Regions from separate parts of the Homo sapiens genome. Here region 1 is linked to region 2. The links come from fine-mapping of genetic effects on gene expression. A gene starts in region 2. The other region holds a variant in brackets. All regions are shown on one strand. Distances are between the middles of the regions.

Region 1 (4,392 bases), 22 kb before region 2:
AAGTCAGGCAGGCAGCTAGCTGCCCAAACTGAAACGGGTGGTCTCTGCAAGGACATTGGGAATGACCCCTGGACCATGCTTTGCAGCCAGACCCCTGGAGCAACTGCACTTACAGCTAGTCCTTCCTGCCACTGACTGCAGACCCTTCCATGACACGGACCATCAGAGTCACCATCATTAGCTTTGCTTTTTTGTCCTTGTAGAGTTGAGGGAGCTAAAGCCACCTCCAGCCCCTGTGGGATGGATGCTCTGCTGAAATTCCTGAGCAGCACAGCCAGCCCCAGAAGTTCTAACTCTCGAGAACCTGGGGTAATGGATGGCAAGGACAGAAATGAAGACTCTGCTGCAGTGCTAAGGACACCTTTTAACTGTGTCACATTTGCCAAACTTTGCCTTAAATGTATCACGGTAACTGATAGTTTTGACGGAAAAATAAAGATCCCTGATATGGCTTGGCTGTGTCCCCACCCAAATCTCATCTTAAATTGTAGCTCCCACAATTCCCATGTGTTGTGGGAGGTACCCGGTGGGAGGTAATTGAATCATGGGTACGGGTCTTTCCTGTGCTGTTCTTGTAATAGTGAATAGGTCTCACGAGACCTGATGGTTTCATAAAGAGTTTTCCTGCACAAATTCTCTCTCGTCTCTCGTCTGCCGCCATGGAAGACATGCCTTTTGCCTTCCGCCATGATTGTGAGGCCTCCCCAGCCACGTGGAACTGTGAGTCCATTAAACTTCTTCTTCTTTATAAATTACCCCATCTCAGGTATATCTTTATCAGCAGAGTGAAAACAAACTAATACAATCACAAACTGAAATTCCATGGCGCTTGTAGAACATCATGTGACTCTCACGGGGTGGCCCTGCATCTCCCCTGTGCCCGGGTGATAACTGCAGAGCACACCTCCCTCTGCTCCCTGGAGTGCTGGCATAGGAAGACTTCGGGACTGGACTGCGGAGTCACAGCTCTGTTCTGCTTTTGTCCCTAATTAGGTATGTGGTCTGGGTTGTTTCACTTTCTCAGTTTTCTTTTGCTTTCCAGAATGTCTAAAGCTTCTCATGGCCCAAAAATTGTTACTGGTAACGGTAAGAGTAGTGACAGCACCCACTGAGGGGATCTATTGTGTCTAATAAGGGAACATGCTGTGTCCTTTACGTGAATTAGTTCATTCACTCACAACCTTTACTATCCCCATTGTCCAGCTGAGAAAAGTGAGGTTCAGAGGTTAGCCAATAAGGGACAGAGTCAGGACCTGACTCTGGGCCTGATTCTGAAGCCTGAGTCCTACTCATTCTGACAGTGCCACTCAATGCCGTCACTACACTTATATGTGGCACATCGCCTAATAAGCACTGAACTCAAGATGCTGCTTGGCTTGGCTGGCAAGTCCCAGAGTGAAGCTGCTCCGTGGGCTTCTGGGCACTCAGAGGCTCAGACAGGGCCTCTGTCCTCCCTCTCATCCCTCCTCTCCGTCCTAACCCTTTAAACTACTTGTTCCATGTCCCAGACTTGCTTTTGTGGGGAATTGATGAGATATTAATGAAACTGGCTAAGGGGTGATCTGTACCAGAGGACCAGCTTTTAAGGGTCTTGTGGGCAAAACCTACTGAACCATCCAAGAGGTGGCAAAAAGGCTGTCCTACAGCACAATCAACCAGGACTTCAAACACTGTTTCTGAAAGCATTCAGTCCAATCAGAGCACTGGAGCAGCCACACAGCTGCACAAGAGATTCAGTCTCCAATGAGCTATTTCCCTGTGCCTCTCGCTTCCAGTCACAGGCCATGCTCCTGAATCCAGCCACTGACAAACTCGTCTCTTTGGCTGAAGGTAGATGGGGCCAGTGTGGATGGGTGAACCTGTTACAGAGAAGCCTCCTCTATAGCACCATACTTCTGGCTACAGAAGGATTAACACATACAAGACTCTTGTCATGACCATTCCCGCAGTTCACATACACATTCCAACAACACAAAAAACAAACGCACAAAACATCTCTAATCAAAAATGTGTAGAAATAGCTGGGCACAGTGGCTCATGCCTGTAATCCCAGAACTTTGGGTGGCCGAGGCAGGC[G/A]GATCACTTGAGGTCAGTTTGGGACTAGCCTGGCCAACATGGTGAAACCCTGGCTCTACTAAAAATATAAAAATTAGCCAGGTGTGGTGGCGGATGCCTGTAATCCCAGCTACTCAGGAGGCTGAGGCAGAATTGCTTGAACCTGGGAGATGGAGGTTGCAGTGAGCTGAGATTGTGCCACTGCACTCCAGGCTGGGCGACAGAGACCCTTTCTCAAACAACAATAACAACAAAGTGTAGAAATGATGTGGTTAAAATGAATACTTTTTAGTCTGATCAAAAGAGGAATTACTTTTTTACTTGTTGCTGCACTACATTGAAAAAAATTTTTTCACACAAAACTATTTTGTAAAGTTCAGTAATTTTTGCCACAACAAATTTAGAAGTTTGGACCAGAATATATTTTATTTTTCTCATAAAAGTTATACCAAAAATATATTTTCTTAACTTAAAAATACAGCTTCAAAAAGCAAAATTTGAGTTGTTAGAATTCATTACACATTTTATAAACAGCAGTGAAAGGAAGAAGTCAGCAGAATGGATTCAATTTTTAAATACACAAATGTTCATTTCACAAGCTTGACTTTGTCCTTTAATAACTTAAAGGTAGGGTTCTTGCTGATTTTCTTGTTAAAGATGACCAGGAGTTCCTCTTCGGATCTGTGATGCTCATCTGTCACTGTGTAGTACTGAGCTAAAACCTTCACAAAGAAAAACATCAAATGAGTGTATTTGACCTGGAAAATTATCTTAAAATGTTCTGTCTTTAACCCAGAAATAGAACAACAGGAAAAAATAAAAGAAACCCAGGAGCAAGCGACACCGGCGTGCTCTCCTTGGAAAACCCAGGCGGCAGCCACGTGCAGGGGTTTGGCCATGTGTGAGTCATCCTGAGAAACAAAGTGAAATAAAGGAGAAGAAACCACTGCTCTGGGATAGGCAAAAGAGAGCAAATATCTAGAAAATAATTTCCAAACAATAAAAATTAAATAAATGGAGCCTCTCTTCAAAGTCTTATAAACAAGCCCAAAATCTAGGCACCACCCTGGCTGAGGCTGTGTGGGGCTTTGGAGCAGCTTGAAAATCACTGAGACACACACACAGATTTTCAGTGTTTTAGGTGAAAAAAGAAAAAAACAAACAATTGTACATTTAGAAATAAGTTCTCCCCAGCTGTTAGACACGTGGGTTTGTTCATATGCCATACCTTTTTCCTTAGCTTTTTGATGGTTATTTCATTGTCTGGGGCCTGTTTCAGAATTGCTTTAATAGTTCCCTTCCAGTTGAATTTACCTACAATATAAATAATAATATTTAAGACATTTCGTTTTGTTGTACTACGAGAAGGGTAAAGAAACAACTTCTGCAACACCTATTTGCTTCCCAGGAAATGAGCTAACCCTCTAATGAACCAGACTCCATAGCACCAAGCATCTGTTCAATTCCAATGTCCTAGAAGCACTCACTACCCTTCAAAGGACTGGCTCTTAAGAGTGAGCAGGTGCCCATGTGCTATTGGCATGACAAACTCCTAGATAGAGTTGTATGTAATGAACTCAACACAGATTTCCTAAGCATCCACTAAGATCATGGGGCTGTCCATGCACAGTAGGGAGGACAAAGATGAGCAAAACAGCTTGACCTGAAATGAGAGAGAGGACAACCACAAACTATTATAGAGGAACTAAAAATACTCATCTAGGGAACTTCTGCTTCTGGGAAGATGGAGTGGACACACTTTCCCCTTCCTCCTGCCCACTACAACTGAGAACCCTGAAACTATATAGGCAAGAAATGTAAGAAGACTCTGAAAGGTAGAGACCAGCTGGGACCTCGGGGCCTGCAGAGCAACACGGGGTGAGCTTCTTGCTGCCTGTACCCCAGATCTGGAGTTGAAGAACCCAGCAACCTGAACACCAACAGCACAGACAAAACAGTCCCAACAGAAGCCTGCTCTCTTGGCAAAGGACCGGGAAACGGCAGCCTAGCAAGACAGAAAACTTTTGTATAATAACAACCCTACTGCAGCCACACATCACAGAAAAAACGGTGGCTCCACCCCCACCCGCACCAGCAAAAGCCGAGTGGCGAGCCTGAGTTCTCTACCCTCGCAAGGCTGTAATGAGGGACGGTGTCACAGAAGGCCAAGCAGGAATTCAGGGGTCTCATCCACACAGGCCGGTCATGAGGCTGCCCCTGCTGTGATGTCAGTGGAACCTGCACCAGGAGCCCTGCCCGGCAGGAGCAAGAAGTGGCCATCCTCAGGTGTGGATGGAGGCTGAGTAGAGAGCCTGGACTTCCGCCCCCACCTGACAG
Region 2 (4,392 bases):
ACTGAGCTCTCATCACATGCCATACCCATGAAAAAGATGACGGGGTCTGCACCATAGAACACATGATCATTAGCTCTCTACAAAGCCGTGTCCCATTTATGAACACAACTGCCCCCAATACCACTAAGACTGCTATGATCATACTACCTCCATCTGGAGAGAAAACCTAAGGCTCAGGAGGGTAAGTGAACTGCCCGAAGTCACAGTAAGTGGCAGAGGTGGCCTGAAAGACCAGGCAGCAAGCCCAGGCTCCCACCCTGCCTCCATCTTGACCTGCCATGTCCTAGCCGTTTGCTTGGTGGTTACTCAGCACCTGGGACCTTGAGGTCCTCATCCAAAGAGAAAAAAAATTAAGGTCTCTATAAGATGACTTTCCATGTATAAATATTAGAACCCTAAGTCTTAATTATAAAACCTCTGTGCAGTGGGCAAGGAGACCACCCATGTCACAGGAGAGGCTGTCAGGGTCTGGACAGCAAAGCTAGCTGAGGGGCAGCAGCCAGTGGTCACTAAGGGGCTGGGAACTTGTTAGTCTTCTCTTAACAAGATGGTTGCCAGCTTTTGTTGGACAGGGCCCTGACTCAGGTGTAGAGGATCTGAGCTGGAGCCTACATCTGCTAATGTCAAAAAAGTCATTAAAAACTAAATGACCTCAAAGCACCTTAACTTCCCAGAATCTGTTTATCTGTAAAATGGATCTAATACCTAACTCAAAGCATTGGGTGGAAAGTTAAATAAGACACCAGATATGAAAGCTTCATCCCTGCCCAATTGTAGAAAGGTTTCTCTGTGACCTACTAATTTGCACATCAATGCTATTATACCCAGCCCCCTCCTAAACCCATGCTCCTTTAAATATGACCATCAACCCACCCATTTATGTTCATAAATTCACTCCAACCTTCTCTGGCTCCTCACCCCATGGCTGCCTACTTTACCAAGTTCCCTGATAACATGCCCTTAGGTTTGGTTCTGAGATTGGAATGATTTTTTTTAAATCTTCTTCCCTCTATATTTTTGTATTACTTATTCAATTTTTTTTCTTTTTTTTTTTTTTTTTGAGACGGAGTCTCATTCTGTTGCCCAGGCTGGAGTACAATGGCGCAATCTCGGCTCACTGCAGCCTTTGCCTCCCAGGTTCAAGTGATTCTCCGGCCTCAGCCTCCCCAGTAGCTGGGATTACAGGCACATGCCACCATGCCCGGCTAATTTTTGTATTTTTAGTAGAGACGGAGTTTCACCATGTTGGCCAGGCTGGTTGTGAACTCTTGACCTCAGGTGATCCACCCTCCTCGGCCTCCCAAAGTGCTCGGATGACAGGCACGGGCCACTGCGCTTGGCCTTGACTATTCTTAAAATATTCTTGCATGCACATGCAGACACTGACCTACACATCATTACCACCACTACCACTCAAACAGCCCACCTGAGGGGCCTAGCTGGCAACCCCAGGATATCCCCCACTGAACACTGTGACCCTGAGCATGCCACTGCCTCTATAAACTTCAAGTTATCTCATCTGTGAAACAAGAAGTCAGGCCAACTTGACAAGACTCAAGCCCCTTCCACGGGTAGCATTCTGAGAAACCATGGGTATGGTGCAAGAGAAGGACAGACAAACATACTCTGTCCACCATCCTGCCTAAACCTTTGTGTATGAGGCTGACAAGGGTTACAATGGGTGACATTCACAAGGAGAGAATCTCTCCCTTGTTCCTTGCAAAAGCCCTGGGAAGTAGGTGCACCTATCTCCACTAAACAGATGAGCAAACTGAGGCACAGAAGCCATTTCTCTCTGCCTCCTACCCCACCCACGGCATCACCAGCACTGTTTTAAACACCATCCCTTCACTCGAGTAACTACCATGTGTCAGGCACTATGCTAGACCCTGGGAGCCTCGGGCACAGTGTGAGTAAGTCCCAAGTGGGCCCTCTCTGCTAGAAATCAGGGTTGCAAATACAGACCCCACCTCATCCTCCTCCCTCTCTCCTCAGAGGTAGGTGCTTCAGAGAATCCTAACATTCATGGAGCACCCAAGCCCTCTCATAGGAGGTTAACACATTTCTACTCATGTAATCCTCATCACAGTTCTCCGAGTTAGATTCTATATGTTATGACAGATGAGGAAAGTGAGGCGCAAAGAGGTTAAAAAACTTACACCAGGTCATCCCACATCCAGGTAGTGGCAACCCAGATTCACACGCAGTAGTTATTCTGATCCTAAGTATGTGCTCTGGACCGCTACATCCTAAGGCCTCCTCTTTAGGGACTGATCTCCCAAGGCTCAGAGAAGAGCCCTGTCTCCAACATGCAGCAAGCCTGAAGCCCAGTCGGGCGGTGACCAATCGTCCTGGTTTGGCCAGGCCCGAGGGAGTTCCCAGGACGCCGGACCTTAAGTTTTAAAACTAAAACGAGTTGGTCACCCTAAGTCCAGGACTCCTGCCACTTCCCCAGAGCAGGAGTGAGATCTGAATGGAACTCCTTCCTCCATGCGTAACCCAGAGGGGCTGACGGTGGAAATCCCGTCCCTCCCCTACTCACTCTCTGAGCCCCAGCCTCCCAGGTCGGACCTCTGGGCCACCACCCCTCACCTCTCAGCCAGCGCCCGCCAACGGTTTCAACCGGCCGCGGGGAGCACGTGGACTCGCCGCCGCCAGCCCAGCGCCGCAGCTACCTGCCTCTCAGGCTTCGCGGTGCAGAATTCGCTTCTGAACCACCCAGCGCGCCTGCGCACCGCGGCCACGCCCCCCCCAGTGGAAGTGACGCCAACGGAAGCAGGAAGGCGGTTCCGGCAAGCCAAGGGGGCGTTGTCGTGATGATTCCGCGGCCAGCGGATCGCTGCGAGTGGCCTTGAAGGCAGCTGCTGCAGGTGAAGAGTAGGCGGCGGGGCAGAGAGCGGCCTCCGAGGGTAAGGTGGCCGGCCTTGCGAAGGCGTGCGGGGCTGGCGCTGGTGGGAATGGCCCGGAAGGGAAGGGAGGCCGGGCGCCCGAAGGTGGCCCAGAAGGGCATGGACCCACCGCTCCTTCCCGTCTCTGGGCACTCGAGGATACCCGGGGGGTTGGCGGCTCCTGCGAGAGTCAGCGAGCATTTGCTCTGTGCCGGGCATCACAGGGGACGCGGACTGAGACCCAGACGGCCAGGTTCCGGGCCTGGGAGCCGGGCCTTCTCCCTGGTGCAGCTTCCTCGGCCTGGAAACCCCACCCGCGCCCTCTCATCTCCAGGCTTTGCCCGCTGGAAGCCAGCCCGGCCCGCCTCCGCTACGCGCTGCCCATCTCTCGGCTTCTGTTTCCTTCCACGCTGTAGTTGAGAGTAGCGCTTAAGACGACAGAGCCCACAGCCTAGCTCAGTTTCATTACGGTGTGGCCTCTTTGTGCCTCAGCCCCGCATCTGTAAAGCGAATGTCATAGCGGCACCTGCGTCCCTGGAACCTTGTCGTATTTCATGAGTTGGTGCATGTAAATCGCTTAGACTAGTGGCTGCCACTTAGTAAGTACTCAATAAACGTTAGCTCTTCTCAGCCCTTAAAACAGGGTCTGGCACACAGTGGTGGTCACTAGGTGTTTGTTGCTTAAATGAATGAATGAAAGTTGAGTGGAGGATGCACAGAGTATTGTGAGAAACCTTCACTCCCAAGGTGTGTGTATATGGGTGATAAGGTTTCACTCTGAAAGTGAGCAGTGTTGGGCCTGGAATAGAAGGTGTATTAGTTTGCTAGGACTGCAAACAAAATACTGGGTGGCTTAAACAACAGAAATTTATTATTTTCTCACAGTTCTGGAGGTTAGAAGTCCAAGATCAAGGTGTCTTCAGGTTTGGTTTCTTCTGAGACATTTCTCCTTGGCTTGCACGTGGCTGCTTTCTTGCTGTGTCCTCGCATGGTCTTTCCTCTGTGTTTTCACATCTCTGGCGTCTCTCTTTGCATCCAGATTTCCTCTTTATGAGAACGTCAGTCAGGTTGTATTAGGGCCCACCTTAATGGCCTCATTTTAACTTAATTACCTTCTTACAAGCCTGATCTCCAAATACAATCACATTCTGGAGTGCTGGGGGAACAGTTTAACCATAACAGAAGGAATTCACAGAAATGGACAAGGAGGGAAATACTTTCCAACAGAAGTGACAGAATGGCCAGGAGGCTTAAAAGCAGGGTGCTCAAGATGTTTTTTGTGTTCAGGGCACATATGTGTACTTCAGTCTTGTTTGTGCTCTCGTACTGTTTTTGGGTTTGGTTGTTGTTGTTTGTTTGTTTGTCCTCCTGAATACTCAAAGAAAGTGAGCCCTCTCATTTTTTTAGTCTGGCAAACTTAACTCACATTTCAGCATAGATGTGTCTTCCAGGAAGTTTTCCCTGACCCTCCCTCCCAAATTAATTTCTGCTTCCTCCATTTAAT

Alleles and levels. Positions count from the first base shown, and alleles are read on the strand shown. Sizes are in standard deviations (SD) of each study's normalised expression.
With allele G in place of A in region 1, the expression in monocytes of the gene that starts at base 2,711 in region 2 is lower (moderate effect, 0.59 SD a copy in Quach 2016).

Evidence for each region. PIP is the estimated chance that this variant, and not a neighbour inherited with it, causes the effect.
Region 1: its variant is the best candidate, but not a certain one, in a credible set for the expression of LYAR in monocytes (Quach 2016, PIP 0.80).

What each region holds. Positions count from the first base shown.
Region 1 is chr4:4,265,247-4,269,638 of GRCh38, forward strand. It overlaps LYAR (Ly1 antibody reactive), which reads right to left. Exons shown (of 10, transcript NM_017816.3): 9 at 3,284-3,369; 10 at 2,455-2,777. The coding sequence ends at 2,643. Among named protein-coding and RNA genes, the nearest start is that of TMEM128, 19 kb to the left of the region's middle. RefSeq lists a silencer at 4,155-4,332. The variant G/A (reference allele first, on the strand shown) is at 2,077.
Region 2 is chr4:4,287,444-4,291,835 of GRCh38, forward strand. LYAR (Ly1 antibody reactive) reads right to left here and starts at 2,711. Exons shown (of 10, transcript NM_017816.3): 1 at 2,593-2,711. It overlaps ZBTB49 (zinc finger and BTB domain containing 49), which reads left to right and starts at 2,808. Exons shown (of 8, transcript NM_145291.4): 1 at 2,808-2,909. RefSeq lists enhancers at 660-1,198, 1,199-1,736.